Linked DNA regions of Homo sapiens. The protein of the gene in region 4 purifies or fractionates together with the protein of the main gene of each other region. This does not show direct contact. Each region holds a gene or a part of one and is shown on either strand. Other genes may lie near its edges.

What was found.
Region 1: the proteins of PRSS21 (region 4) and ROBO1 purify together in Homo sapiens (affinity purification with mass spectrometry; one large-scale study listed by BioGRID and IntAct). This does not show direct contact.
Region 2: the proteins of PRSS21 (region 4) and ABHD17B purify together in Homo sapiens (affinity purification with mass spectrometry; one large-scale study listed by BioGRID and IntAct). This does not show direct contact.
Region 3: the proteins of PRSS21 (region 4) and SMOC1 purify together in Homo sapiens (affinity purification with mass spectrometry; one large-scale study listed by BioGRID and IntAct). This does not show direct contact.
Region 5: the proteins of PRSS21 (region 4) and WAPL purify together in Homo sapiens (affinity purification with mass spectrometry; one large-scale study listed by BioGRID and IntAct). This does not show direct contact.
Region 6: the proteins of PRSS21 (region 4) and ALG9 purify together in Homo sapiens (affinity purification with mass spectrometry; one large-scale study listed by BioGRID and IntAct). This does not show direct contact.

What each region holds. Positions count from the first base shown.
Region 1 is NC_000003.12:79,760,720-79,765,764, reverse strand, and holds part of ROBO1 (roundabout homolog 1 isoform a precursor), read left to right. Parts: intron 1-5,045. UniProt on the Homo sapiens protein: Receptor for SLIT1 and SLIT2 that mediates cellular responses to molecular guidance cues in cellular migration, including axonal navigation at the ventral midline of the neural tube and projection of axons to different regions during neuronal development.
Region 2 is NC_000009.12:71,869,194-71,874,238, reverse strand, and holds part of ABHD17B (alpha/beta hydrolase domain-containing protein 17B), read left to right. Parts: intron 1-3,976; coding exon 3,977-4,156; intron 4,157-5,045. UniProt on the Homo sapiens protein: Hydrolyzes fatty acids from S-acylated cysteine residues in proteins. Has depalmitoylating activity towards DLG4/PSD95. Has depalmitoylating activity towards GAP43. Has depalmitoylating activity towards MAP6. Has depalmitoylating activity towards NRAS.
Region 3 is NC_000014.9:70,021,426-70,026,470, forward strand, and holds part of SMOC1 (SPARC-related modular calcium-binding protein 1 isoform 1 precursor), read left to right. Parts: intron 1-1,777; coding exon 1,778-2,022; intron 2,023-5,045. UniProt on the Homo sapiens protein: Plays essential roles in both eye and limb development. Probable regulator of osteoblast differentiation.
Region 4 is NC_000016.10:2,815,014-2,820,658, reverse strand, and holds the start of PRSS21 (testisin isoform 1 preproprotein), read right to left. Parts: upstream 3,423-5,645; 5' UTR 3,391-3,422; coding exon 3,327-3,390; intron 3,230-3,326; coding exon 3,203-3,229; intron 2,859-3,202; coding exon 2,693-2,858; intron 1,983-2,692; coding exon 1,690-1,982; intron 318-1,689; coding exon of another isoform or gene 253-317; exon of another isoform or gene 1-252. UniProt on the Homo sapiens protein: Could regulate proteolytic events associated with testicular germ cell maturation.
Region 5 is NC_000010.11:86,500,212-86,505,256, reverse strand, and holds part of WAPL (wings apart-like protein homolog), read left to right. Parts: intron 1-4,513; coding exon 4,514-5,045. UniProt on the Homo sapiens protein: Regulator of sister chromatid cohesion in mitosis which negatively regulates cohesin association with chromatin. Involved in both sister chromatid cohesion during interphase and sister-chromatid resolution during early stages of mitosis.
Region 6 is NC_000011.10:111,860,924-111,865,968, reverse strand, and holds part of ALG9 (alpha-1,2-mannosyltransferase ALG9), read left to right. Parts: intron 1-717; coding exon 718-788; intron 789-1,270; exon of another isoform or gene 1,271-1,776; intron 1,777-5,045. UniProt on the Homo sapiens protein: Mannosyltransferase that operates in the biosynthetic pathway of dolichol-linked oligosaccharides, the glycan precursors employed in protein asparagine (N)-glycosylation.

The DNA.
Region 1 (5,045 bases), on a different chromosome or scaffold from region 4:
AAATATACTGATTGAGCACCTGGGGGAAGACAATGCCATTTCATTTTTTCCTCGCTTTCCATGTGCCTCCTTTACTGTGGTTGTTTGGGAACTAGGATATAATAATTACAAAAAAAAGTTGAAAATCCACTGATTTATTTGGAAGCCTCATAACTGGGTTTTCAGGCCCAAACTTGTATTCTCCTAGCAGCTATTATTTTGAAAGCCTCAGTCTGACACCTTAAAACCTGCTTCTCTACTATATCTTGAGGAGGCACTGGTAACTTTCAAAGGCAATCTGTAAGCATGCATCATGTTGATTTTGTTAAAGGGAAGAGGCAGTGTTGGTAGATGTTCCATCAATATTTGCCCTTCCAAAATCGGCCCCCACCCCCCAAAAAAAGGAAGAGGAAGCAGCAGCAGCTCGGAGCAGATATCCAGTTGGTAAGATGACTTTGTTTCTTATGGACCTATACCTCTCCCATGAGGGATAAAAATTAGGATATCTAAGGAGTGGGGGCATTCACCTTATATTGTTGCCACGGTTTTTGGACTTCCTTTAGCCTTTTCGCACATATCTTCCTGCTCCATGCCTCTTCCAATTTAGCCCTGTAGGAGCTGCAGAATTGAAGCACAATGACACAGCTGCAGATCCCTGGTGGAGCCTTGCTTCAGAAAACAGCTGTTAATCACATGTTTGTTGTATTTTCCTATTTACTTCCTTTTACTTCCCTTCGCTTCCCTTAGCCTGTCCTTGAACCAGTGTTACCATCTTCTGGGCTCTACTCTATGAAGGTTAGTGATTTCCAGTGATATAGCACTGAGCTGAGCATGGGAGGAGGGGAGAGACTCAACAGCTGCCTAGGGAGTCCCAAAGGTTTAATGCCAACTTTCTCTTACCCTATACTGCACAAAATAAAGAACAAATACCCTAATATCTCCCCAAAGAGAACTGCATTGTTCTGTATAATTTTCTTTTATCTTATAACATAGTAGAATCAATTCAAATACAAAATAACATTGACCAGAGATGAAAAGGAAGCTATACACTTGTGTGCACTATTTGGAAAGTAGTGTTGTGCTTAGCTATAAAATCTCACTTTTTGGCCTTCATCTATACTTAATACATTAGGAACTACTTTTATTTAAGCAAGATTTAATGTATTACTTTCATTACAAAGCTGAGAAACTCTAGACACCACAAAGATGTGAATTTTAAATGAAAAAAAGCAAGGCAGTAAAGTAAGCCCCTGGCAGCTTGATGAATGAGCAGGTGCAATGCACCATTTGAAATGTATCTTGAGGTGAGCTTCCACCAATCTGCTGGAGAATGAGCTCCTTCTTGCCACCTAAACTCAACTGATTTTCCTCTTTCTGAGACCACAGACAAAAACATGATAGCATACAATAGGCTAGATTATGACCTGGTCACATAATCATTTATCTCTCTAAACTTGCTGTTGAAGTGAGCAATGTTACTGTTAATGTATTCATATTTGTACCTAAAATATATTAGTGCCAATTCTCCTAATTCTATAGGAAATTGAGGTCCTAGAAGGCTAACTGACTAATTCAAAACTACATAGGATAAAACTGTAGAAACAGTGTTAGTCACCGTACCTGCAATAGATATTTCACTTAATCCCCACATAACCCTTTCAAAGTAGGCTTTATTAGATGTCTACAACACATGAAGAGAATGAAGCTCAGAGAGTTTAAGGAAAATAGACATGACTATTCAGCCAAAAAGGGGCAGAGCCAGGATTAAAAACAAGTTCTTTCTCATGACAGAGTACATGCTTTTCTAGTATGTCATACTGCTGCTTTTAAGGGAGCCATTCTCTTCAGTTAACTGGACCTACCTATTTTCCCCCATATTTAAACAAGGAGTTTGATTATTCCTTGAATTTTATTTTAGTACTCATAATTTTTTAATCTCCTTGATATCTTTTTCATGTCCAAAGCATTATCTGCATTTCTCCAAGAGCAAACTTTTACAGTTACTTTCCAAGGATCTCATAAACAGTAAATAACTTTTTCAGAAAATATACCCCACCCCTATCTGCCACCCTGCCTGTATCATCTCTGGGGGTCAGAGCACTTGGGGAAAACTGAGGGGCTTTCCATTTTCTTTGAAATTTGTGCATATGTAGCCAGGATGCCTGCTAAGGATCCAGTACGTCAGTTTCAGCCAGTTGTTCTTTTCTGCCTTTCCATTTCTGCACACGTGTCTTCTCTAATCTGCAAAATTATCTTCTTCATTTGGCCAAACCCTATCCATTTGTCTAGGGTGGTTCATGTTCCTTCTCCACCATAAAATTTTTCTTATTATTCCAACCCTATTGCTGTTCCTTACCTCTGAAATTCCAAGTAATTTCCAATAACATCTGCTGTCTAATTTGGTCTTTATTCAGGGATTAAGAGGAGTAAGCTAACATTTTTTGAGCCTTTACCTTATATACTTTTACATACATTATCCATCAACTATAAATTTCTATTTCTTCATTATATTTCTGCATTTTGCCCTTATTATTTTTTCGCACTCGATAGTCACCCAGATGTTGTGATACATTTCCGGAGTTTCAGTAATGACATTCAAATTTTATATTTCTTGTCCATGCATTGCTCCTGATTGTCATACCTATATTTCCAAAGATCTAATTTCATCTCCACCTAGAAATGCATCACAAGCATTTTAAAGGAAACTGTCCTAAAGGAAAGCATTCAAAGCCACAGGTATCATCCTCCCTGCCACACTTGCTTATCTCTTTAGATTTCCAAGTGGTAAATAGCACATCATGCATCAAGACACATTCCTCTTTGCTATGTCCCTCTGCCTCATTCCCTATGATCATGTAGTGAAAAGAAAAAAAAAATTATGATTTTTCTCTTGAACTTCACCTCTTCTCCTCATGGGCCTGCCCTCCAATTCTTACTTCCACTTCCTGGGATCAGCCATTTGAAGTCATGTGCAACAAGTTTGGCGAGCTATCTGTCAGGGCAAAAATGACAATTTCTAAACTCCTTAGTCATTGAAGGTACTCTGTGATATGAAGCATGAATTCTTCTTTTCAGTCTTCAGAATTATCAATTACTATGAAAATTTACTTGCATTTTCTTAAACACTCAGGATGTTTCATTCCTCTCGGCTTTTGTGTGTGTGTGTGTGTGTGTGTTTGTCCAGAATTCTGCCCCAAATGGTTCTCACTTTCTTATTTTTTTAGCGATGTTTGAAAACACAAAACAAGTGTCACTTCTTCTGTGAAGACCTTCATGTTAAGAAAATAGGTTTAAGTATTCCTCCCTTTCTGATCATTTAATAATGCCTCTGAAATTCCATTGTAATCATTTATTCGTTTCTACTATGAGACTGCGCTATGTTCTGAATGCTGTGTCTTCTCCAAATTCATATGCTGAAATTAAAATTAGGAAGTGGGGCCTTTGGGAGATGACTAGACCATGAAAGCAGAGCCCTCAGGAATGGAATTAGTGCCCTTATAAAAGAGGTCTGAGTAAGCTCTCTTGCCCCTTCCCCCCCGACTAAACATAAGAAGATGGCTGTCTATGAAGCAGAAAGTGGGTCCTCCCCAGACACCAAATCTTCCAGCGCCTTGATATTGGACTTTCCAGCCTCTAAAACTATGAGAAAAGCATTTCTATTGTTTACAAGGCACCTATTCCATAGCACTTTGTTGTAGCACCCTAAAGATACTAAGACAGACTCTAAATTCTGTGAAGCAGTATGTCTCAAACTTTGTCCATTGAACCAAATAAATCTTAAAAGTGAAAAAAGTAGCCCTTAAAACACCAGTCCCAGGATCCCCCATCAGAATTACTACAATAGAATATATGGGGGTGGGGCACTTGAGTCCACATATTAACAGAATCTATTCCAGGTGTAACTAGGAACAGGGAGTTTATCACAACAATTGCTCTCCAATTCAGTCAGATCAATATGGCACTTAATTTAGCATTTGGGGGAGGAGCCATTTGCAAAGCTTTTTAGATCTTATTTTGTGTCTTCCCAGATTACCGTGCTTCAGAGAAAGATTTGCTTAGAGTATAGTAAATTAGATCACATGAGTCACTCTTACTGAAGTACAAGAGTCCTGCATCAGAAAGGCAGATTTGCCAAGAGCAGAATTTCAGTAATCACATGTGAACATGGCATTTAGAGTTGAGGTGCTGCTGTGCAGAGTACTTGGAGCTTTTAATGACTCTGACTTTTTATTATTATGACAAGTTTGATTAGCAGACACAAAAATGAGTGAAACAAGTTCCCTTGAATTACCACCCAGGTTAAGTAATAAAAGATTAAATGTAATATTGAAGTTTTCTGGGTACTCTTCCAGATTGAATCTCCCTTCTAAGAGGTAACCAGTGTGGTAAATTTGCTGTTATTATTTCTATGCATTTTCTCTTGAGTTTACTGTATATATTACATATTTAATTCATATATAGTATTGTCTTAAGTAAATAAAATATTAGCCTAAATTGTCAAATATTGTTTGCATTCTTGGAAATATTTTTTTATGATTAATTCAAGTTGCTTCGGGTACAGTTACTTTATTCATATTCATTGCAATATAGTGTTCTATAAATACTATAAGTATATACATATATTATATTTTTAAATATATTATTATTATATATTTAGTAGGTATGGTAAAAATATATAGTATATTTTATATATAGTACATATATTTCATATATAATATAGTGCATATATATTATAGTATATATACAGTATTAAAATATGTATTATATTTTATGTTTTTCTCTCTCATTTATAGGTATTTTTCTTACTATAACAGACTGTAGCAATTTTTTGGCACATGTCTCACTGTGCACACATACTTTTTAGATATTTGCCTAGAAGTGAAATTGCTGATGACGTGTAATGTGTTTCTTCTCTTTTTTGCCCCCAAACCCATAACAGTACCCTGTAGTATTTGTAATTTGCAAAATTACATAATTTGTAATTATGTTTAGCCAGAATTAAAGACCATTTTTTAAGACAAACTGTATAATCTCTTATACTTGTGAAAGCCCCCATGAATATTTAA
Region 2 (5,045 bases), on a different chromosome or scaffold from region 4:
CACTCCAGCCTGAGTGACAGCGTCAGACCTCATCTCTTAAAAAGTTAAAAAAAAAAAAAAATTAAATCCAGTGACAAATGTTTGGTTTTTGTAAGCTTTCTTATTGGAGTGTGATATAAAAAATGTTTATTCAAAGCTGCAACCTTTCAAGGAAATGAGAGAAAATACTGACATAGCTAATTATTCACTTGATCTGTCATTAACAGTATGAGGCTGGATTGCTTTCTATTAAAATCTTAAGCCAAGATTTGCATTATTTTATGTGATTACTTCTTGGGAAGTACAACTTAAAGATACCTTATTGGAATTATTTTTCAAGTATTCATTCTGTAAAACTGAGATTTTACTTTATATTCTGTGTTCCTAAAATTGGGAGAGATTATATCAAGTTTAAAAAAATTTTTTAGGCTGGGTGCGGTGGCTCACGCCTGTAGTCCTAGCACTTTGGGAGGCTGAGGCAGGCGAATCACAAGGTCAGGAGTTCGAGACCAGTCTGGCCAACATGGTGAAACCCCATCTCTACTAAAAATACAAAAAAAAAATGTCTGGGCGCAGTGGCTCATGCCTGTAATCACAGCACTTTGGGAGGCTAAGGCAGGTAGATCACGAGGTCAGGTATTCGAGACCAGCCTGGCCAAGATGGTGAAACCCCGTCTCTACTAAAAATACGAAAATTAGCCGGGCACAGTGGCGGGTGCCTGTAATCCCAGGTATTCGGGAAGCTGAGGCAGGAGAATCACTTGAACCTGGGAGGCGGAGGTTGCAGTGAGCTGAGATCACACCACTGCACTCAAGCCCAAGTGACAGAGTAAGACTCTGTTTAAAAAAAAAGAAGTTTTAATGTTATGATAAATTGTTTAATAAAATTTTCTTACTATGTCAGTTATTCTTTGATTATAGCAGCATACATTTTGGGGAACTAGAAATTGCATTAATCTTTTCTAGTCACCAAGATACCTAAACATTTTTCTTGAAAAAAAAATCACAATTTGGTAGACTTCAGTGTATTATTAGTCAGGTTAGTGTACAATAAACAGATACCTTAATATAGGCTATTCTTTATATTATATGAAAATAAAATATCTGACTTCCAGGATGTTTTAGACTGAAGCTATAGGATATAAAGAAAACTTACTGTTTCTAATTTAATGTTTAAATATTAAAGATTTCATTTAGTCAGGAAAAATTTCCTCAATTTTAATAATAAAGTAGTTAATATTATTAAAGATATTAAAAATATCTTTAAAACTATTTTTCCCTCCAAAGAAATGTAATAAAGTTATGCTCTCATAGCGAAGTTCTACATAAAAGGGATTCTTAAAATCAACTGAAATTATATAAAAACATAAATATGGGGAATAAGGAAAAAAAGATGGCAAGTAGTAGGTAAAGAGTTGATGGGGGATGGTAAAGTTATTGTTTAATTGATAAATTAAAAACTGCTTTAAATAAAAATCTTTTACATATATTGATATCAGTTCCATCAAGCCTTAAAACAAACAGAAACTGAGTGCCCACTTTTTAGAGTCAGTCAGTTGAATAACGTATAACAACTATAAGAAAGTATTATAATTAAAAAAATAGCTTTATTGAGTGATAAGGTTCACACTTTTAAAGGTTAACTTCAGTGGAATAATGAAGTTTTAAAGGGTGCTAAGTTAAAACTGATAGCCAGCTTTCATTATTAGTGCTTCCCAGTAACGCAAAAGGGTCACTTTACTCAAACAAAACATGTTAGTATTCAGTTCAGTGTTCTGTGTCTATATGAAAAAATCCCATTTTTTAAGTGGTCAACTTTACTGTTTTTTTCTTTTCTTTTCTTTTAATCTTGGCATTTACCAATTTGAAGAAAACTTTGAAAAATGATTTTCAGCCTTAATTTTTTTAACATATTTGATAGCCAGTGTTAATCAGGAATGGGCAGATTTCATCAATAATCCCACATACTATTTTAGCACTTATATTTTAGAATTTTAGACCTGTGTTTTCTTTCGTGTTGAAACCAAAATATAGTTGGAGTTTCATAAGTGTAGGTACTTTAGGAAATATTACTTCTCTGAGCCTGTGTTTCCTCATCTGTTTAATGAAGAGATTGAATTAAATGATCCCCAAGATCTTTTCCAATTCTGGAATTCTGTCATCTAATGAAATGTGTGTAATTAGAATACATGCCTTTTATTTTATTTGCCTGATTAAAAGTTAGGACTTAAGTAACCAGGAGAGAGAAAATAAATAATGAACTTAAATAATGTTCATTTTTGGGATGAATGAACATTGGAATGTCCTTTTTGGGAAAATTGGATATCCATAATAACTCCAATTTCTGACCTTCTGATGGACCAAAAGAAACTCGGGGCCTGGCATTCACTATGCACCTTTCCCACAAAGTCCTTGAGTTCCTCATCTGTGTGCTTCAGAGGTAAAAAACACTGAACTGGGAGTCAGTATACCTGGGTTCTAATTATAGAGCTGTCATCTACTGGTGACTTTGAAGATCTGCTCATTAGGCAGCTGGACTCTAGATTAGATGGTCTCTAAACTCCTTTCTAGCTCATACTGTTAGGCAGTTGTTACTCTTGTGAGTCCCCTCATGCTTAATTGTCAGCTACCTCTGCGACTCTATCCTTGAGCATTGTCATTGCTAGCTGTAGCCCAAATTTCATGATTGCCACCAACAATGCTGATATTCAGCTGACAGCAACAATGCAGCCTCAAGAACTGTGGTCATGCTGCAAATGTTCATTCTCCTAATTTCTTCATTCGTATGAAATATGTGCAACTAGGTCTGTTGTAAAGAAAAAAGCTTTTCTGAGTTTGCTAATATTTAGAGTCAATTTGAAGTAGACAGAGCCCCACTTTCTGTGTCCTATACAAATGCTTGTGTAGTACTGACTTGAAGAAACTATATGGGGAGAGCTGTGTTACTACCTGTATAGTTGAAATAGTATTATGCCCCTGGAAGAGAACACACGGACAGTTTCCCTCGCTCTTTCCTGGTGAATATCCAGATTCTTAGAAAGATATTTTACCTTTGCAAAAGATTTCCAAAAGCAGCTGTTATGTTCTTAGCTGCCAGAGTGACTGCTGTCTGCCTTCTAAGTGGAAAGGTGTATTTAATGTCACTATAACCTTTAAGCCCACATTCATTAGCTCAGGTAGCACTGTACTTACACTTGCAGTAGTTTACATTTGGGATGATTATACTGTAGACAAGTAGCAAGCAGTTCCTTGAACATACTAGGTACCCAATAAATATTTATTGAGTCAATGAGTTTTCATCTATTTAAACCTGTGGCCATTTTAAAGGGATTAAAATAGTACCTTGTAATTTTAGCGTAAAGTCTAATCATAAATAATTGGACCATGTGGTGTTTGGAATTCTTTTTTATCTTTTCAACCATTAGTCCATTTCTACAACTAAGCAAAGATCAATTTTAAGAAAAATCGTAAAATCATAATTTGCCCTTTACTAAAACCATACATATATTCATTTCATACCATAACTATATGTAACAGTTCATCAATATGACCAATTTTGGAAATTAAAATGAGCCACTCTTGATGTGTGGAGAAATAAATAACTTTTGTTACACTGAACGGAAAATAAATATGACCTATTCATTCAACATCAGTTCATTAAAATATTAGTGATATGCCCCAAGCTTAGTCAGCAGTAAGCTAGGTTGAAATATTATAGTGTAATAAATTATTTAATAAATTTATTTCTTAAGATTGAAATCTTAAAATACCTCAGCAATTATTCTTCCAAAAGATGAAGTAGAGAAACACATGAAATAAACTGATGATACAGACTTTATTGTAATGTTAAAACTAACAGTAATAGCTAAGAAACTTAAGTTTAAAAAATGGATTAGTTGACATTGTCTTATTCTAAGATCAAATCCTTTGGAATGATGGAACATTTCATATCACTCCAACTTTTTTGGTTTTTGTTTTTAACGCCTGAACTTTGTAGATATGGCATTCGCCCTGAAAATGTGATTATATATGGCCAAAGTATAGGGACAGTACCGTCTGTGGATCTTGCTGCTCGATATGAGAGTGCTGCTGTTATTCTTCATTCTCCTCTGACTTCGGGAATGCGAGTTGCCTTTCCTGATACCAAGAAGACCTACTGTTTTGATGCATTCCCAAAGTAAGTAGCAATATTCAAAATAGTTAAATTCCAAGAAACTTGGGAATTTTTTCATCATTTAAAGTATTCATGACACAGTTCACTCAACCATAAACTTCATTTTATATATATTAGCACATAGAAATTATGAAAAATTAATTTGTAAAGAGGGTATTAGCAGGTGACCAGTCAGAAGGCTGAAATGTTTGAGGAGTAGTAATCCAGATGAAAATTGCTGAGGGCCTTACACCTCAGGTGGTGGCACTAGTATTGGAGACAAGGGAATTAATTTGAAACATAAATTTGACAGAACTGAGTATCAGACTGGGTGTAGGATGCTAAAGAGAAAAACTTGAACATGACTACCATGTTTCTGCCCTGAGGTGCTAATGGATAGGGCCATCCAGTGAGACACTTGATGTTAGAGAAGAACAGGTAGAAGCTAAAATGAGTAAATATCTGATTAATGATACCTAACTTACAAAAGAAGTGAATTGAAAAAAAGTTGAATCTTAAATTAACTAGATTAGTAAGTATTGCTGCCACAAAACCTGCAAACATACTTAGATGTATTTGAAAGGAAAGTAGCTACTTTTCCTTCATGCTTCTCAAGACAGGAGGTAGTTCCCACCTACTCTTCATAGTTGGAAAAAATTAATGGCCTATTTTTCTCAAGGAGAAGACAAGAAATAAGTTGGCAAATTTTAGTTTTCTCTCCTTTCTCCAATTGGCAGCAATACAAAGGATTTTTTTTGTGAATGGCCGATGGGCCAAAGGCAAAGTCATCACATGGTTCAAGAATTATTTTAAAAACACAGAATTTTCATCATTAGCCAGTAATGGATCACTTTAGTAGGGAAAGTATGTGAACACATGATCTTATCACAAGGGCAAGCTGTGGGCATGTTTG
Region 3 (5,045 bases), on a different chromosome or scaffold from region 4:
TTCTTCAGTGAATAACTTCATGCCTGTTTCAAAGACCTCCTGAGCCTGGTTTCCATGACAGACTAAGCAGATTTCCTAAAAGTTAGAGGCAGCTGGCAGCTCTCCACGGCTCCCTCACACCTTCCGCCAGGTACTCTTTGAGTTAAACCTGTCACGATGAGGTCCCCTTGGCAGATCCACTAATTGCATCCTCCTGGAATCAGTCCAGGATGCCCGGATTACCTGCTCAAGACTGAAATTCAGCTAATTAGGAATAGGCATCTAACAGGGATGGATGACTGGCTTTTTTTCCCCCCGCATAATGGAACTTCTTTTTCCCTGAACTTGGACGTTACTTGGTGGGGTGGAAGAGGAGGGAGTTTGCTGGCTTGTTCACAGGGGAGGGGTCAGAGATTATCTCCCTTCTGGAAAACTCAGCAAACCCCAGAGAAGTCAGGGTGGCATGACAAGTGCCTTGAATAGTTTCCCCACCAGGAACAGCTTCAGAATGTGCAGACAGGCCTTCGACCCTGATCTAGGATCCCTCTGGAACAGTGAGCCCTCTGCCCCACTTCTGACCTCTGGTAGTCATGTGCTCTGTCCCAGCGCCCTGCACACTGAGGATGTGAATGTGTGGGACTCCCAACATCAATCTTTTTCTCCTTCCCCAGGGGAAGTTGCACAAGGGCCTAGATCACAGTCACTCAGTGCCAAGCCCTGGGAACAGGAGCCATGGGGCTCATGGGGTTCCATTCTCCTCGTTAGTGAACCCAGGCAGCCCCTCTGTAATAGACCCATTATTGGCTTTAAAAATTGTAAATAGTAGTTATCACCCTGACTCCGTTTTGGGAGAAAATAGGAGACAGTTAAGTAAATAACATAGATGAGTAGGCCATTACATACAGTTACACATGTAGACGTAGATGTTGGCCTTGTAACTTGATGAGGGGCTGTGTTAGATGTGCTTGTGACTCTGCCTCTGGATGCCAGGAAGTGTTCTTGGTGACTCTAGTCCAGCATTTCTCAGCAGAATCACCTGGCAGTGCTGGTGAATACATGGTTTCCTGGGTCCACCCCAGATCCCCTGACTAAAACCTCAGGCTGGAGAGACTCATCCCCAGTAGGTCCCGGCTTTTCCAGTTTTGGAACTTCTGTTGGTGTCTGACCCAGTTGCTTTCTTCTCTCAATTCCCACTGCACTGGATGTCCAGCAGTGATGGACCGTGGGAACCTCACACCCCACATTCAGTTGTCATGACTATTTTCACCTTTTTGGCTCTGTCTCATAGAGACAGTGAGCCACTTGAGGCCAGGGGTGCACCCTCCAGGGCCCAGACTGGCACTGGGCGTACAGTGGATGCTCAGAGCACCTTCCCCACAGTCAGTCCACCACAGGGCACATGTTTACGTGTAATGAGCAGCTTGTCCGCAGTGAGTGCTAGGCCAGGGGAGGGACAATTTGGATTCCAGCTCTGGTTTATTCAGCAAATTAGATCAAGCCAATTTGTCTTGAGCACCCATCATGTACAAGAACATTTCTGGCTTTGGTAGAGGGTGAGTCATGTTTGTGTAATAAGGATTACCCACCTGGGGAGTCCTGAGAAAAGAATGGTCCAATCTTAGGATTTGAGTCGGAGAGGATGGCTTAACGTTGCCACAGGCTGAGCCGCTGTGGGTGGACTTTGGCTTGGAGGAGCCGTTTCTACCTGACTTTCTGGGGGCAGTCATACCAGGGCTGATGGTTCCTGCAAGATCCTGATTGGTGTTCTCTGCGGTGGGGGTGTTTGTCCATGGCCCAGGTTCTCAGAGCCAGACCCCAGCCACACCCTGGAGGAGCGGGTAGTGCACTGGTATTTCAGCCAGCTGGACAGCAATAGCAGCAACGACATTAACAAGCGGGAGATGAAGCCCTTCAAGCGCTACGTGAAGAAGAAAGCCAAGCCCAAGAAATGTGCCCGGCGTTTCACCGACTACTGTGACCTGAACAAAGACAAGGTCATTTCACTGCCTGAGCTGAAGGGCTGCCTGGGTGTTAGCAAAGAAGGTGAGTGCTCTCCCCTGTGCTCCTGGCCTTTCAATACTTGCCCCCACCCAGGCATGGGACCAAGGGCTCTCTGATAAATGAGATTCCAGATACTCATCTATTCATCAATTATTTGCTGGAAGTGTGCTATGCTTCATGCTAGATGTTTGAGACAGTGGTGGAATTGACTGATAAGGTCCCTATCCTTGCACAGAAGACAGAGCTTAAATAAGCACTCACATGAGCTGTGATACATGCTGTGAGAGTGTGCTAGGGTGGGCCAGGCTACAGTCACAAGTAGACCCATACATCATGGCTTGACACAGTGGAAAATTTTTCTTTCCCATATAATAGTTCAGCATGGTCGCAGGTTGTAGGGTGTGTGTGTGTGTGAGTGTGTGTATGTGTGTGTGTGTGTGTGTGTGTGTGTAGGGGTAGGAGTAGGGGCAGGGATTGCTCTATGCAGTCACTCTGGGATCCAGGCTGAGAGTGACTCTGCCATCTTCATCATGTGGCTTCCAAGGTTACTCTGGGGGTCATCTCCATCCTCAGTCAACCAGATGGAGTAGACATGAAGCAGTGCATGTGAGGGAGTTTCATGGGCCAGTCCTGGAAATGACACTCATTCCTGCTGGTATTTCACTGACCAGAGCTCGGTCACTAGGAAGGCTGGGTTTTATGGGCCAGCCCTGGAAATGACACACATTCCTGGTCATAATTCATTGGCTGGAACTCAGTCACTAGGGGAAGGGAACCCAAGAAGAGAGCAGCATGAATTCTGGTGAACACCTAGTAAGCTCTGTCACAGCAGGGCAAGTGCAGAGCATTGTAGCAACATATATAGGGGCACCCAAGACTCTAAGGGACAGACAGCCTTGAAAAACTTTTGAAGGAAGCGATGCCTAAACCAGGGCTCAGCAAACAATGGCCTGAATGCTCAATCTAGTCTGTGGCCTGTTTTTGTACAGCCTGTGAACTAAGAATGATTTTTGCATTTGTAAAGAGCTGTAAGTTTTTTTTGAAAGAAGAATATATAAGAGGGACCGTATATGGCCCACAAAGCCTAAAATATTTACTATTTAGTCTCTTGCAGATAAATTTGCCAACCCATGGTCTAACCCATTACTGGAAACATGAGTAGGAGATGGCCAAGCAGAGAGGTCAGGAGAGGGAAGAGTGTTCTAAGCCAAGGCAAATGAGGAGTGAAGCTCTGGAGGCAAGGAAACAGTTTTCAATGAGCTGAAGGATGTTTGTGTGACTGAAATGAATATTTTAACAGTGGTAGGAAGAGCAGGGGTGGTGACAAGAGGCAAGGTGAAGTTGGAGAGTTTTTAAATTCAGGTGAAAGACTTTAGACTTTATAAGGGTAGTGGAAAGCTGTTGAAGGCGTTCAGAGAATTGATAGTATCAGTTTTTCTTTAAAAAGTATTCTGGTTTCAGGGTGGGACATGGATTGGAAATGAGCAAGGCAGGGTCATCCAATAGGAGGCATGGCACAGTCCAGGCTAGAGTGATGGAGGGCCAAGTTATGAAAACACAGCAGGGTAAGGGGAATGGAGAGAAGTGGGTGATTGGAGATCAAGTTAGGTATGGGACAAAGGTAGGTTTGTTCAGCTGGAGGCATGGCTGCTCACTGAGATGGGCAACATGGAAGGAAGAGCAGGTTAAGTATAGAGGGATGTAGAGGGTGCCCAAGTATGGTTTGGACACGTTGAGTTGGATGCACATGAAGGATGAGTGGCTCTGTAATGCAGGTGAAGGGTCTGAAGATGCAGATTTGGGTGATGCCGACTTATTTGAAATGGAAGCTTTGGAAAAGCTGAGATTTCCTAAGGAGAGAGTTTAGCAGAAGAAGATAAAAAGGCCTTTTCCTTGTTCCTCAGTTGTCAGAGTAAACCCAAAGAATAGCATGGGAAATGGATGGGTTCCCATAGGAACCTGGGCTTGGGATCCACTTCCCACCGCCCGCCCCGCCATGGCTGGTTTCTGGCCTTGGTTCTGGGGCTTACTGGTGTGTGACTGACTTCATTACTCTGGGCATGCCTGTCTGACGCGGATGCTTCTCTGTTCCCATAGTACTCTGAGTCTCCAGGACTCAGCAATGAGTCAATGGTTCAAACCCTGCCTCTGTCCCGGCCTCGCTCTTTCACTACATGCGGCTTGAGTGTCCCTTATCTGAAATGCTTGGGACCAGAAGTGTTTGGAACTTTTTCAGATTTTGTAATATTTGCATTACACTTACTGGTTGAGCATCCCAAATCCACAAAATCTGAAATCCGATATGCTCCAGTGAGCATTTCCTTTGAGCATCATGTCAGCACTTAAAAGGTTTTGGATTTTGAAGCATTTTGGATTTCAATTCAGTACAAATTACTGAACCATTCTGCATTTCAGTTTCTTCACCTGCTTAATGGGAAAAATGCTAGAGTCTATCTCATAGGACTGTTGTGCTGATTAAATGGGACAGTGAGTTAAAGCATTCCCAAAGTTCCTGAGAAATTGAAATAACTCAATAGAAGTTCAATACTACTATTCTTCTTTGTAAGATGAACTTACACTGTGTTGCAGTTTACTCTTCCGATTACCCCTTGAAGCCAAAAGGATTCTCTCTCTCAATTCCTAACCTCTAGCACCGTACATGGCACCTGGTAATTCATTAAGTCCTTGTTAGATGAATGAATAAGTGAAGGAATGAATGGATGGGGGGGTTGCCCCTTCCGGTGACATTATGCTCTGACACGCTTGGAATTTGTGGTCCTTTCGCAGAGCACAGTCAGATGGCCAATGTCGGGAAGAGACCATCCAGTGTCAATGTAGACCCCAGGCATACCAGGGGCACTCCTGGGCTAAGCGATGATGCTCTGTACTGCCCCTGCCTTCGGCCCCCTTCCCGTGCTAGTAGTTCTGGTCTGCACAGCACACGGAAGCCAAGCAATGGCTGAGTGTGGTGAGCTCAGATCCACCGAGCTCAGGGACTCCTCCTAGCCTTCCTCTGAAGCCTTTCCAGGCACCAGGTGTCTGCCAGTCCCAGCTGACATACAGGA
Region 4 (5,645 bases):
AGGGAGGGGCGAAGGCAGCTGAGACGGTGTTCAGATGAGCATCCAAAGCCAGACCTGGGGGAGGGGCAGCCTGGCTGCAGCCCTGGCCTCAGTAGCAGCTGGGCGCTTTCCAGGCCTGGACACAAGCTTGTTGCAGCACTCTTAGGGACCCCCAGCACCCCTGGGAGGCGGCAGTCATCAGGACCTACTCCCAGATAAGGAGAGTCAGGGGGATATTGCCCCGCTGACCCCCAGCAAGGCACTGGGGAAGTTTCAGAGCCTGACAGGAGCCCACACCTGTCCAATTCCTGCCTCAGAGTGCCAGCCAGCACCTTGTCCTGCAGAGGATGACAAAAGACAATGAGACCCAACCTGCAGGCAGCGCTTCCCGTCAGCGGGGCCTCTCCTAAGCCCTCGGGACTAACAACCTGGGAACTAGCCTCTGATGTGGCACCATCATTCCCCTATTTCACAGGGGAGGAAACTGAGGCACTGTAAGATGAACACCTTTGCCCAAGGCCTCCCAGCCCGCGCAGGGCACAGCAAAGGTGCACACCAGGCAGGGGGCTCCAGAAGTGCCTGTCCCCTGCCTCCCCGGCACTGTGAATTGAGGCACAGCCTGGGGTTGGTGTGACCTGTCTACCCTGGGCTGGGGAGAGAGGGTGGCAGAGGCAGCCTGGCCGTGCCCCTGGCTCATATCCACTCGTGTTTGCAGCAAGGGTCCTTCTCAGGGAAGGCAAAGGATCCCTCCTCCAGAGGGAGGCGGCTCCAGTGCTGAGTTCCCCACTCCCAACTGCCGGGGTGTGACTTGGGGACATCCCTTACCCTCTCTAAGGCAAGGGGCCCTGACTTCTCCATTTACTAGTTCTTGGCAATTTCCATAACCCTCTCAGTTTTCTCATCTGTAAGATGGGTATAAGAACGTTACCAACTTCATTCCTAGGTGAGCTCCAGCAGGAGGAGAGGCCGCGCCTGGCTCACTGCTGGGCCCCCATGTCTAGAACAGTGCCAGGCACACAGCGTGTGCTCAAGGAACCACGTTTGTTATTGTTACTACTGTTGTGGGATGATGCAGGGACGGGCCAGACAGGGGAGCAGAGGGAAGGGATTCCTGATACAGGGAACACGCCCAGTCTGGGGCTGCCGGGGCTCCTCCGGATGCTGGGCCCACTTCTTTCAGGGCATGTGTGTTGGGGGACACGCAGGTGCCAGGGCAGGCCCACCAGAGGAACCCCCAGAGGGGTTTCCGTGGGAGCTGCGGTTGAGCATGGCTTGGAAGTTTCTGGGGAGAGGAATGGGCTCAGTGCTGCAGGAGAATCGGCCAGAGCTAGGGTGGGTGTGGGAGGCATGGAGAGGCAGCCCAGGAGCCTGATGCCTGGGGCATTGGTGAGCACTGGGGGAGGTGGAAAGATGCAGGAATAAATCCAAGTATGAGGTTTATGTCGCCAAGCCCTCCAGAACCCCTCCACCACCGCACCACCCACAGGCCTGCGCCAAACTGGCCTCCCTCTCACACTCTCCTTCTGGCCCCCACAGCCCCTGGAAGGGAGAGAACTGGGTGTTTGGTCCCTGCCCTGGCAGGTGAGGAGAGACTGCAAGCAAGAGGGGCATAGCCTGCACCCCCAGACCAAGCAGGGGGCTATTGTGCCTATGCAGGGGAACAGGTGAACAAAGACAGTTCCTCCCTGACCCGCCTGTCCCCAGCCTCACCCTCATCCTCTTTGATGTACCCCCAGCCAGTCACCCAGCAGTCTGTCCGGTTCTCAAACTCAAATGTGGAGGCCTGGAGACAGATGGGCTGGATGTGTTTAGTGTAGGTGACAGGTGCAGACAGCTTCACCAAGGCAATGTCATAGGGTGAATTCCCCAGGTAGCGAGGGCTCAGATAGATATTCGATACGAAGTAACGGGTGTAGTAGGCCTGCAGGCTCCAGAAGGATGGCATGGAAGTCAGCTGGCCAAACTGGACCATCCACCCGGAGGGATCACTAAGGTCACTATAGCTGGCAGAAGAGAAGAGAGCAGTCAGGGGCCCTGGATGGAGGGCTGGCTACCTGAGCACAACTGGGGTCCAGTGCAGGAGGGGAAACTGTGGTGTTGCTGCTACTTGCTAACACCCAGGGTCCCCTGCAGAAATGAAGGAGCCCAGACAGACCACAACCAAAGTCCTAGGACCTGCTCCTGCAGCAGAAGGGTGGGGTCTTGTCACCTCCCAGAGCTGTCCCAAGGAGCCTTGCATTGAGCCAAGGCCTCCAGGGGCACCCCCATGCAGCCCAAGGAGGAATGGGGAGATGCACCACGCCAATGTGGGATTGGCAGGATGGAGTCCACACAGCGGCCCGGGGGTGCTGGCCTTGGCTCAGTGCCCCACACTGTACCGCACCGTCCACCAGGAGGGGGGATGAGGGTGGGATGGTCAGTGGTGAACTTTGGGTTGAAAGAAAAAGGGAGAGAATACCCAAAAGTGTGTGGAAATGTTCTGGAAGAACATTCTGGAATAACCTGAACAGGGTTCCCTCCAGGAGACCCAAAGGGAACTGGAGTGGGTGTAACCGGCTGCAGCACAGCCTGGGGCTCAGGAGAACACCAGGCCGCATCCACGCACAACTTTCACGCCCAAGTCTGGCATCAGACCAGAGGTAAAGTTCGGTGGCACTCCCTCCAGCCCTGTTCCTGCCCGTCCCCGCACCCCTCCGTTCGCACCCCCACTCACGTTTCAAAGCAGTGCGCCGCCGTGAGTGCCCAGCGGTGGCTGAGCAGGCTCACTCCGCATACGTGGGAATCCCACAGGCGCAGGCTCCCCTGCCACGGCCAACGCCCGAGTTCGGCGTCCTCTCCACCCACGATGCGCGACGTGATGACCCGTCGGCCGCATGGTCCTCGGATGGTCAGAGGAACTGCTGAGCCGCGGGAGGCAGCCCCCCAAGCCCGACCTCTCCCTTTCTCCCCTTCAACCCCGTCCGGGAAAGCACGTTTTTGCCCACCCAGGGTCCCCTCGCGTGTGTGCAGCAGGAAGTAGGTGACACTGGAGATCCTCCCACGTGCTCTGCAGGGCCCGCCCATCCCCCTCCAGCGTCCGTTAGTTACTTTCCACGCCAACAGAGTTCTCGATCCCGGGGGCGGGGGCGAGAGAGCAGTAAAGGCCCCCCTCTACCCCCTCACCGCCCCCCGTCCACCTCGGCCCAACGGCCCTGGCAGGAATCGCGCGTCCTGGGCGCCCTACCTGATAACGGCGCCGCCTCCTGCGACTCTGCGGGAGACAAGAAGTGACTCCCCGCGGCCTCCACCTCCCGTCCTCCCCACCGCTCCCCCGCCTCCCCATCCCGCCAGCAGCGCCCCGAGCTCACCCGGCTTCCTGAGTCCAGCCCGAGCCAGCAGCAGCGCCAGCAGCAGCGCCCCGCGCGCGCCCATGGCCTCCTCTCCCGCGGCCTGACGCCCCCTCTGCCTCCTCTCGCGCCGGGCCCGGGGCGCCCCCTGGGGGCGGGGCGGGGTGGGAGCTCTGCCCTCTACTCCCAGCTTCACCCTCCTGGGCCCAAGGGCTGTTTGGGGCCTCTCATGCCTGGCAGCGCCCTGGCTTTCAGCCCCTAGGGGCGGGTCTTCAACCACACTTCTTGATGTGGCCCAGACCCGGTGGACCCCACAGTCCCTTTCTTGTCTGCAGCCCAGGGGTCCCGGCTGCCCTCTTGGTGACCCCGTCCTCCACCTACAACCTCCTCCAGCACCAAGGGCCTGGCCCTGAGCCAGGAGTCCCCTTAAAGCCTGGGGACCCCCTGAAGGCCGGGTGGGGCCTAGAGGCATGGCTGCTCCTTCATGGGACCTTCTTGGGAAAACAGTGGTCCTCGGCCCGTTCCACCCAGAATGGGGATCTCCCCAAGTCTCTGCCCAGGCTGTCCCCACTGCGGGCTCCCGCTGGGCTCTCTTCACTTCTCTGGAACAATTTTTTTTTTTTTTGAGATGGAGTTTCGCTCTTGTCGCCCAGGCTGGAGTGCATTGGCGTGATCCCAGCTCACTGCAACCTCCACCTCCTGGGTTCAAGCGATTCTCCTGCCTCAGCCTCCCAAGTAGCTGGGGTTACAGGCGCGCGCCAGCACACCTGGCTCATTTTTGTATTTTTAGTACAGACGGGGTTTCGCCATGTTAACCAGGCTGGTCTCCAACTCCTGACCTCAGGTAATCCGCCCACCTCGGCCTCTCAAAGTGCTGGGATTACAGGCATGAGCCACCGCGCCCAGCTGCAATTCCACTTCTGAGCATACACCCAAAAGAACTGAAAGGAAGGTCTTCAAGAGATATTTGTTTTTGGTTTTTTGGGGGGATTTAGTTTTGTTTGTTTTTGAGATGGAGTCTTGCTCCATCGCTCAGGCTGGAGTGCAGTGGTGCGATCTTGGCTCACTGCAACATCTGCCTCCTGGGTTCAAGTGATTCTCCTGTCTCAGCCTCCAGAGTAGCTGGGATTAGAGGCACCTGCCACCATGCTTAGCTAATTTTTGTATTTTTAGTAGAGATGGGGTTTCGCCATGTTGGCCAGGCTGGTCTTGAACTTCTGACCTCAGGTGATCTGCCCTCTGCGGCCTCCCAAAGTGCCAGGGTGAAGGTGTGAGCCACCCCACCCAGCCTTCAAGAGATATTTGTATACCCATGTTCATAGCAGGATTATTCACAGTAGCTGACATGAAAGCAACCCAAGAATCCATTGACCACTGAACAGATCAGTGAAAATGGGAATGTACAACCAGAACCTGGGAATCCCGCCTCCCTCAACTTGAAACTTGGGAATAGCGTATTCTACTTTCAACACTTGCACTAGTGGAAGGTTAATTACATGAAAGATTAGGCAAAATGTGTGGTTAGGCGTTCTGGTTTTCCAATAAAAGTATTAAGTTTCTTTGGGGAAAGTACAGATAAAATGCTTAGCACAGAGCATGGTACCAACGGGAACTCAATGAGGGCGCAGCGGGTGTGTGGGAGCTTCGGGTTTCAGGAGCACAAGGCTGCGGTGCCTTCCCTCAGGGCCTCCTTCCCCAGCAGCAGCTGCTCAAGGACAAGTCACATGCACAGCCTGGCCTTGGCCTGCTGGGTTGGGGCAAAGGTCCCTGGGCTTCTGATCCTGCCCCTCTCCCAGCCAGCAGGACGTTCCCTCTGGTTCCTGAGTCCCAGGGATCCGCTGAGGCCCCTAGGAGGTGTCAGCTCCTGGTTTTGCCCAGGGTCTCAGTCAGGCCAGTCCTACCCGGAGATCTGAGCCAGGGACTCAGGTTCTTGCCTCCAGTGAGGCTGGGGGCTTCCCGCAGAGGCCAAGCCTGGCCCGGGGGCTGCAGGGAGGCCCTGGCTGCTGCATGGGCTGCAGATGGAGACTCTCTTGTCTGCTGTGCCTCAGGCTGCAGAGTCACAGAGGGGTCTTCCCAAGCCCCACACCTGGAGGGCAGGGAGGACAGGGACTTGTGGTCCTAACCCGACTCCTGACACATAAGGGCCAGCCGGCCCGGAGCCACCTCTGCGGGCAGGAGAAGGCCTCATTGTTCCCTTCTCCTGGCAGAATGAGGACTGGGGCGTGCCCGGGGCAGGAAATAAATGCTCAGTAAATCCCTCTCTTGGGAGCCCTGATCCCAAGGGACAAAGGGCCTGTGTTGAGTCTCCCTGGGCACGGGCTCGGGGCCAGCACTTGGGCC
Region 5 (5,045 bases), on a different chromosome or scaffold from region 4:
AGGCTGAGATGGGAGGATCGCCTGAGTCTAGGAGTTTGAGACCAGCCTGGGCAACATAAAAAAAACATAAAAAAATCCTGTCTCTACAGAAAAAAAAACTCTACAGCTTTTAGGAATTTTATGTGACTGTAGTGCTCTAAACTGTTTTAAAAATAATTCTGTACTACATCATGATCACAGTTATCAGTGCTTTTATTTTTTTAATCAAATGCTCTCAGAATATTTGATCAAACTTGAATGCTATAATCAAACTTGAATGCTGTATATATTAAAGATAAAATTTATTGGAAATGTATCTTTTAAGAGATGAGTGGGCTTTTTTCAGTTAGTTTATATATATATGAATGAATGTTATTGCTAAAGTATATAAAGGTTTTGGACAAAAAAGTTCTTTGGCATCAATTTTATTCCTATTTTTTGTTGTTTTTTGTTGTCAAGATGGAGCCTCGCTGTGTTGCTCAGGCTGGAGTGCGTGGCTACTCACACAGGTGTGATCATAACAGCAGCCTCAAATGAACCGCTGGCCACAGTGCCCTGGGTAGCTCTAGGTGGGACTATAAGCACGTACTGCTATGTCCCTGTTATTCCTTTTTCTTTTTTTTTTTGAGACTGAGTCTCGCTCTGTCGACGGGGCTCACTGCCACCTCTGCCTCCCAGGTTCAAGCGATTCTTCTGCCTCAGCCTCCCAAGTAGCTTGGACTACAGGTGTGTGCTACTACGCCCGGCTAATTTTTTGTATTTTTTAGTAGAGATGGGGTGTCACCGTGTTAGCTAGTCTGGTCTCGATCTCCTGACCTCGTGATCTGCCCACCTCTGCCTCCCAAAGTGCTGGGATTACAGGCGTGAGCCACCGCACCTGGCCTGATGGTTGCTTTGAGATAAAATAAATTAATAGAAAGTATTTAGAATACTACCAGGCACATACCGAGGGCTTATATAAATATAGTTCAGCTTTGTTTTACTTTGAGTTTTAATTGTGAGTGAAATTGAGTATCCTTCATAAGTTATTTAATTCATTATAGATATATATTTTAATGAATTGCTTCTTTGTGTTCTTGGCTTATTATTTATTCATTTATTTTTGAGGCAGAGTCTTGCTCTGTTGCCCAGGCTGGAGTGCAGTGGTGCTATCTCAGCTCACTACAACCTCTGCCTCCTGGGTTCAAACAATTCTTGTGCCTCAGCCTCCCAAGTAGCGAGGACGACTGGCATGTGCCACCACGCCTGGCTGGGTTTTTTTTGTCTTTTTAGTGGAGACAGGGTTTCACCATGTTGGCCACACTGGTCTCGAACTTCTGGCCTCAAGTGATCTGCCTGACTCGGCCTCCCAAAGAGCCGGCATTATAGGCCTGAGCCATTGTGCCTGGCCCCTAGCGCCATTTTCTACTGGGACATTGGACTTACTGATGTGTAAGGATTCTTGGTATATTAAGGAATTTACCTTTTGTGTTTCCCTAGCAACTAATGATAAGCATTTTTCATGTGTGTATTCTTTTTTTTTTTTGAGATGGAGTCTTGCTCTGTCACCCAGGCCGTGGTGCAGTGGTGTGATCTTGGCTCACTGCAAGCTCCGCCTTCCGGGTTCACGCCATTCTCCTGCCTCAGCCTCCCGGGTAGCTGGAACTACAGATGCCCGCCACCACGCCTGGCTCATTTTTTTGTATTTTTAGTAGAGACGGAGTTTCACTGTGTTAGCCAGGATGGTCTCAATCTCCTGACCTGATGACCCACCCGCTTCGGCCTCCCAAAGTGCTGGGATTACAGGCATGAGCCACCACACCCGGCGAAGTTTGTTTTCTTATCATGACAGCCATTCAGATATTTAAAGGCAGGTTTCATGTAATGGCAGTTTTCTTCCATCCCTGCACCAATTAAACCTTTCTAGTTGCCTCAACTGTATTTCATGGGTTATGGTCTCCAAGCCACTTTGTATCATTTGCACAGATTTCTTACAGGTTAAAGGCATTGTTTAAGTTTAGTCCTCAGCACACCGTGAGATAAACATTTGCTATTTCCACCTCAGCCTCCCAAAGTGCTGGGATTACAGGTGTGAGCCCCCGCGCCCAGCCAGTGAATTAGTTTTGTTGTTGTTGTTCTTTTAAACAGAGTCTCGCTCTTTTGCCCAGGTTGGAGTACAGTGACATGATCTTGGCTCACTGCAACCTCTGCCTCCCGGGTTCAAGCAGTTCTCCTGCCTCAGCCTCCTGAGTAGCTGGGACTACAGGCGCCCGCCACCACGCCTGGCTAATTTTTGTGTTTTTAGTAGAGACAGGGTTTCACCATGTTGGCCAGGCTGGCCTCGAACTCCTGACCTCATGATCCGCCCGCCTTGGCCTCCCAAACTGCTGGGATTACAGGCATGAGCCACCACGCCTGGCCTAGCATTTTAGTGTTTAGCAGCCACCACTAGACGTAGTGTAATATAGTTTGGTATGGGTCTTTTTTATGAAGTCTCTTTTGACTATTGATTTAATTGAGAACCTCTGCAGTCATTAGCCCCTCTGGGCCTTTTTTTCTCATCTGTGTAATGATGGGTTTGGTAAGAAATCAAAGGAAGTATCTTCATTTTCTTATAAGAGGGTAAAGGAAGTCTGTATATATTTGTGTGTATAGACTAGTATACAGTTACACAGATGTATACATTTGTGTGTTTATGTCTACAAAAATAATGTCTATTTGTATCTCCATCTCCATTAAACAGTTCAACTGTTTAATCTTCAACAAACAATTCATTGCCAGTCTTGTTTCATTTTTATCCTCACTAAAGTAAATTCAAGATGTTGTATTTGATTCATAAATATATTTTTTTAACAGATAAGGACTCCAAAAATATACAATTTTGGCATTTTTTATGTTTTGGCTTTTGAATAGACAACTTACATGCAGTATAAAATTCAAGAAGTATGAAAGTCTTTTCTTGTTCCTTATCCCTTAGTCATTCCATCTCTAAGAGCATCCATATCTGTACATAATGTAGAGCTGCCTCATTCTTTTTAACAACTGCATAGTATTCAGGTGTGTTGCTATATGGTAATTTAATTCTTTATTAATTGGTATATTGTTTATGAAAGCAAAAACCAGGAAACAGTGTTCTATTGAGTTTCTTGTTACTTATGTAATTTTGTGTTCGTGGAAAGTTATTTCTAAATACTTGTAAATGAAACTGCTGGCTTCAAGAGTAAGTCCTTTCTTTCACATGTACATTTTTAGTTTTAAAAGATATTACCAAATCTTAACCTGTTAAATTACATTAAAACCCTTTGGAGGCTGGACGTGGTGGCTCATGCCTGTGATTGTAGCACTTTGGGAGGCAGAGGCAGGACGTTTGCTTGAGCCCAGGAGTTCAAGACCAGCCTAGGCACCGTAGTGTGACCCTGTCTGTTAAATAAAAAGGGGAGTTAGGCAGGTGTGGTGGTGCACACCTGTAGTTCCAGCTGTTTGGGAGTGCTGCTCAGGAGGCTGAGGTGGGAGGATCACTTGAGGCCTGGAGGTCTCTGAAGCTGCAGTGAGCTGTGATCACACCACTGTATTCCAGTGTGGGTGACAGTGAGATCCTGTCTTGAGGGCAGGAAAACCTATTGGGTAGAATTAAAAATTATGCAGTGAATCTGTCCATGTAAAGCATCCCTCTCACCTGTATTTGATGATGCTAATTGAGATTTGTAAATAGCTTTTCTTAAATGTAGATGTATTTTGTAGAAGTAATTTTATTGTTTGGCATAGGGTATACATTTTGTCAGTGTTTTTCTACAAGTAAATGTTGAGGGAATTAATAATACCAGTTGGAATCATATTTGTATCTCATTTGGAAAGGTTGTAAAAATGTTCTGATAGTAAAAATTGAAGGCAACAAAAATGAATTCTCCACATACCAGATGAATAGGCAGGCTGAGGATTTATTACTGGCTGATATGCATAAATAGCCACTATTAGCCATTTAACTAACACACCAGAACTACTGCTAAAAATTCCCTTGAGATTATATGGCATTTAGGATTAGAAGAAAGAACAGAAATAGCTAGAGAAACCTGATCCTATGGACAGGTTTCTGGATAGAACTAGCATACCTTATGGGCAGCCCTATCCCAGATAAATAAAAACACTGGTAGAAGGTTTTTATTAACTGTTCAGTTGGTTTAGGTTTTACTAAATGATTTTTAATTTAAGCATCTTTATTTGAAAAGCCCATAATACCCCTAAGAAGGTTTGGCTGAGTCATTTACATGTCATTCTGAATGGATTCAGTTGCTTAACCCTGCTGAAATTTCTTGTGAGTTTACAATTTTAAGGGACTTGGTTGCCTGAGGAAAGGTCAGTAGAAGGCATGAGAGCTATACACTGAAAAGATAGGAGAGGAAATGTCTGATATGTAAATGTTAATTTCTTCACAACTTAAAATTATTTGCAGTTCTTCCAAGATTGATCATATACTATTGATTAACCACATATATGTTATTTATTAACTTTTATGTTGATACCACTCATGTTTTTATCCTTTGACTTATTTTTACAGATAAAGTGGAGAATTTTCATGAAGAACATGAAAAGAATAGTCACCATATTCACAAAAATGCTGATGACAGTACTAAGAAACCCAATGCAGAAACTACAGTGGCTTCTGAAATCAAGGAAACAAATGATACTTGGAACTCCCAGTTTGGGAAAAGGCCAGAATCACCATCAGAAATATCTCCAATCAAGGGATCTGTTAGAACTGGTTTGTTTGAATGGGATAATGATTTTGAAGATATCAGATCAGAAGACTGTATTTTAAGTTTGGATAGTGATCCCCTTTTGGAGATGAAGGATGACGATTTTAAAAATCGATTGGAAAATCTGAATGAAGCCATTGAGGAAGATATTGTACAAAGTGTTCTTAGGCCAACCAACTGTAGGACGTACTGTAGGGCCAATAAAACGAAATCCTCCCAAGGAGCATCAAATTTTGATAAGCTGATGGACGGCACCAGTCAGGCCTTAGCCAAAGCAAACAGTGAATCGAGTAAAGATGGCCTGAATCAGGCAAAGAAAGGGGGTGTAAGTTG
Region 6 (5,045 bases), on a different chromosome or scaffold from region 4:
GTGCTCTTAACCATATGGTATTCTGTAGTATAAAGCTACTTAATATAACCCCTATTTTATTATTTTTATTTTTTAAATTGATGTCAATTATAAAATTAATAAAGCCACATAACAGAACTTTGGAAGATAGGAGGAAAAATACTCATCTAAATCTACCAGGTTGCTATAGCTACTTTTACCATTTTATTACATTTCTTTCCAGTCTTTCCACATGCATATAGTGTCCATAGCTGTAACTGATGTATAAATAATATTGTACATTTTCTCTTAATATTTTGTCATAATCACTACCTGATATATTATGGTTGTTGAAGAATTGCTTGTTGAATGAGCATTATATTGCAAGAATGTTTTCACTATCTTTGTAAACATAAATTTTAATAGCTGTATAATTGTCCATGAGCTAGATGTAGCCTAGTTTATTTAATCATTTCCCTATAATTGGATATTTTGTAGTTTTTGAAACAGTTTTTACTAAAACTGCAATTAACATTTTCATGAATGGAGCTCTACCTCCCAACCCCCACCAGCTGGAGTGATAGAAGTAGGTATACTGATATTGAGTCAAGGGATATGAAAATTCTTGATCCATGTTGCTTTTCAAAAGAATTATACCAATTTACAGTGTTATTGACAATAAATGAGAGTGGTTCATGTTTATGAGTTTTTCTAGCTCATATCTGTGACTTCTGTTTTCTTTTTCTGGGTTTCTTTTAGATTCTTGTGTTTTACTTTTTGCGATGTCTTCTGGCTTTTGTGAGCTGTATTTGTGAACTTTACTTTTACAAGTGAGTATAAAAACTTTGCTTCTAAAAGTGCTGTGAGGAAACCCATTATTGCATAGATTATCTGTTGTGATAGTCTAGGCAGTGATTAGAAATAGAAAACTCTTGACCGGGTGCGGTGGCTCACACCTGTAATCCCAGCACTTTGGGAGGCCAAGGCGGGCAGATCACCTGAGGTAGAGAGTTTGAGACCAGCCTGACCAACATGGAGAAACCCCATCTCTACTAAAAATACAAAATTAGCCGGTTGTGGTGGTGCATGCCTGTAATCCCAGCTACTCGGGAGGCTGAGGCAGGAGAGTCACTTGAACTTGGGAGGTGGAGGTTGTGGTGAGCTGAGATTGTGCCATTGCACTCCAGCCTGGGCGATAAGAGCAAAACTCCATCTCAAAAAAAAAAGAGAAAGAAGTAGAAAACACTTTCCTCCTAGCTCCTGATATATATATCATATACATATTTTTTTTTCTGGGAAAGAAAACTTTTTTTTTCATACTGAGTTTTATTGTATGCTGCTGCCAGTGTGGATAAAACAGTTACCCTTGTGAAATAGAAATTCATGAAATTCAGAGAGGTAGATGTTAAAGACTGATGAAACTAGAAGTTCGTATATTACAGCACATGTGCTACAGGGATAAGCTTTTGTACAGGCTTCAAATTTAGCTCTCTTTTGAATATCCACTGGATCATAAGAAGTGGTTTGGGAAACTTTTGAAATTCATTTTACTACAAAAAAGAACAGATTTTCTGGGGTCTGAAGGGATTTGTACTTGAAGATACTCTAGTCAGCAGAGGGTCATGTTGAACATTCTGCAGACAGAATTGTTTGAAGTCTGCAGCTGCCTGGGAAACTTTTATGCAGTTGAGCCTGGCCTCCAGCCGGGGCTGTTGAACCACTTTCTTCATAGCGGCAACGCTGGAGGAGCCAGACATGGTGCACGTGAGGGCCGGGCCAGTTCGTGGGTTGGTGGGTCGTGGGTCAGCGGGGCCTGACTGAAAACTTCTTGCTTTTATTTATTGTTCTCTTCTTTTTCTTTTTTTAATTTTTATTTTTCAATAGTTTTTGGGGTACAGGTGGGTTTTGGTTACATGGATAAGTTCTTTAGTGGTGATTTCTGAGATTTTGATGCACCCATCACCTGTAGCTCCTGATATTAAATCTGAAGTGTGACTTCTCGTTTGAAACCAACAGTTGAAGGGAACACTGTACTTCTAATTATCGTTTTCTTTCCTGAGGTCATAAATACCATATCCTTATATCATTCATTTTAATTCTGTTAAAAACTATCTAACTGGTCTTTACTTGATAGGATTTAGTAGAACCCTATTTTCGGTCCTAAGATACAGGATCATGATTTGCCTCTGCCCTACAGCTTAGTTGATAATAAACTACTCCCGGTGTGGGATATCACTGCTCTTGTTTGCACCCAATATATTGTCTTTCACAAAGTACCTATTAGTTGATTGAATATTAGTTGGGACTATTAAGCATTTAAGTGTCCCGGTAATAAATATAGCCACCTTTTTTACATGATAACTAACAAACGTCTTGTTTTAATAATGCTTTAGTAATATATTTAAAGGTATTTGGACTTAGTGATCATTATTTAAAATCTTCCCACAGCTAAAAATGTCAGATTTTAAAAAATGTTTGGCCTTGACTGTGAGTGGAGTGGAGGGAAAAAAAGTAAAGCTAGTGCTGCCTTTGAGGATTGTAACCGTAAATTCCGTAAATTGGTCTTTATATGGGTTTGGGCCTGAATTCAGATCACCTATGTGGTCCTTCAAGCCCTAAGCTGAGAATTTACTTTAATATATTTTATTTATTTTATTTTATTTTTGAGACTGTCACCCAGGCTGGAGTGCAGTGGCATGATTTCGGCTCACTGCAACCTCAGCCTCCCGGGTTCAAGCAATTCTGCCATCTCAGTCTCCTGAGTAGCTGGGATTACAGGTGCAAACCACCACGCCTGGCTAATTTTTTGTACCTTTAGTAGAGATGGGGTTTCACCGTGTCTTGGTCTCCTGACTTCGTGATCTGCCCGCCTCGGCCTCCCAAAGTGCTGGGATTACAGGTGTGAGCCACCAGGCCCAGCCGAGAATTTATTTTAAATTGTTCTGGGTTGGTAGTGCCCGTGGCATCTGGCAAAAAATTTCTCTAGAGAAATGGACCCTTAACCCAAGTGTCTGAAAATTACCAGAGATAAAGTTCTAGTGAACAAGAAATTATAATAAAAATAAATCAGAGCACAGAGGGAGCAAAACATTATGGGTGAGAATCAGCAGAAATAACAGTCAACAGAACGTTCACCTGAAAAACTTCATTTATTGGGAAATAGGAATATAATGTAAGTATATTTAACATTTTCAAACAAGTAAAAGAACCAAAAACATGAACAAGAAACAAGAGATGACCAAATAAATTTAAAAAATTCAGAACTTATAAGAATCATATAATATGTAATATTATATAATATGAATAATATGTATATAATATTTATATTTAAGACTCAGTAGATAAACAGCAGATTAGACATTCTGATGAGTAAACTAGTAAATTGGAAGATTGATTTAAATAAATTACTCAAAATGCAGTACAGACAGACCAAAAAAAAAAGGTAATATAGAAAAGGTTAAGAAATGTGTAAGCCACGGCTGGGCACGGTGTTTTATGCCTGTAATCCCAGCACTTAGGGAGGCCGAGGCAGGTGGATCACTTGAGGTCAGGAGTTCGAAACCAGCCTGGCCAACATGGCGAAACCTCATCTCTACTAAAAATACAAAAATTAGCCAGGTGTGGTGGCACATGCCTATAGCCCCAGCTACTTGGGTGGTAGAGGCACGAGAATCACTTGAACTCAAGAGACGGAAATTGCAGTGAGCCAAGATCACCCCATTGCACTCCAGCCTGGGCAAGTGAGACTCTCTCTAAAAAAAAAAAAAAAAAGAAAAAAAAGAAACATGTAAGCCAGAGTTGAAAGAACTGACATACATCTAATCAGATTGTAGAAGGAGATGATAGAATGCGGAGAGGCAATATTCGGGGTATTAATAGCTGAGAATTTTCTAGAAATGATGGGAAAAAAAGATGCTAATCCATGGATTTAGTAAACCTAACATATCCCAAGCTAGATACATAAAAAATTAGTGTAGTGAAACTGTGTAAGACAATAGAGACAAAGAGAAAGATTTTAAAAATTGTCAGAGAACTAATAGAATACCTGCAAAGGAGTGTTAGGCAATTACACTGACAGAAGACTTTTTAACAGCCAGAAGACCAAAAAAGAATATCTTCAAAGTCCTGAGAGAAAATAACTTTCATCCTAAAATTGTATATTAGGTTAAGCCATCTTTTAAGACCAAGAGCTAAATACAGACTTTTCAGTTTAAAAAAAAAAGAGAAAGGGAAAAAAAAAGGAAGAAGCCTGTAATCCCAGTGCTTTGGGAGACTTAGGCAGGAGGATCATTGAGGATTGCTTGAGCTCAGGAATTTGAGATCAGCCTGGGCAACATAGCAAGACCTCATCTCTACAAAAAATTAGCTGGATGTGATGGCACATGCCTGTAGTCACAGTTACTCCTAGCCATTCAGGAGGCTGAGGCAGGAGGTTCCATTGAACACTGGAGTTCAAGGATACAGTGAGCTATGACCATGCCACTGCACTCCAGCCTGAGCGACAGAGAGTATGACTCTATCTCGGAGTGGGAGGAGGAGGGGAAGAAAGGAAACGAAAGGAAACCAACCAACCAAAAAAACGGAATTTATCATTAACAGATTCTTATTGAAATAACTTCTAAAAGAGGTACTTAGGAAAAAGCAAAATTATTTCAGAAAGAAGCTCTGAAATGCAGTAAGGAATCTGAGCTAGGAAATGATGAACACGTGGGTATGTCCGAACAAACATTGACTGAGTGAAGCAGTAATAATGCCTAAATACATTTAATTTGTGGGGTTCACACCTACAAGAAAGAATTAGAAGAAGATACGTAATTGCTTAAGTTTGAGAAACACTGATTTAACCACTTATTCACATTTTCATCTATCTCCTAGCCTTTTTTTCTGACAACTACCATTTATTGAGCAACTATGTGCCAGGCACTCTCCTAAGCACTTTTCCTTGCATTGTCCTCACAGAAACCTTACAAAGTTTGTATTATTATCATTATTTTATGCTTGAGGAATCAGACAGAGACATTATTCAACCAGAGTAGGGTTCCACTGCTAGTAAGTGGCAGAGCCAGAATTTGAATGTGTGCCCACCT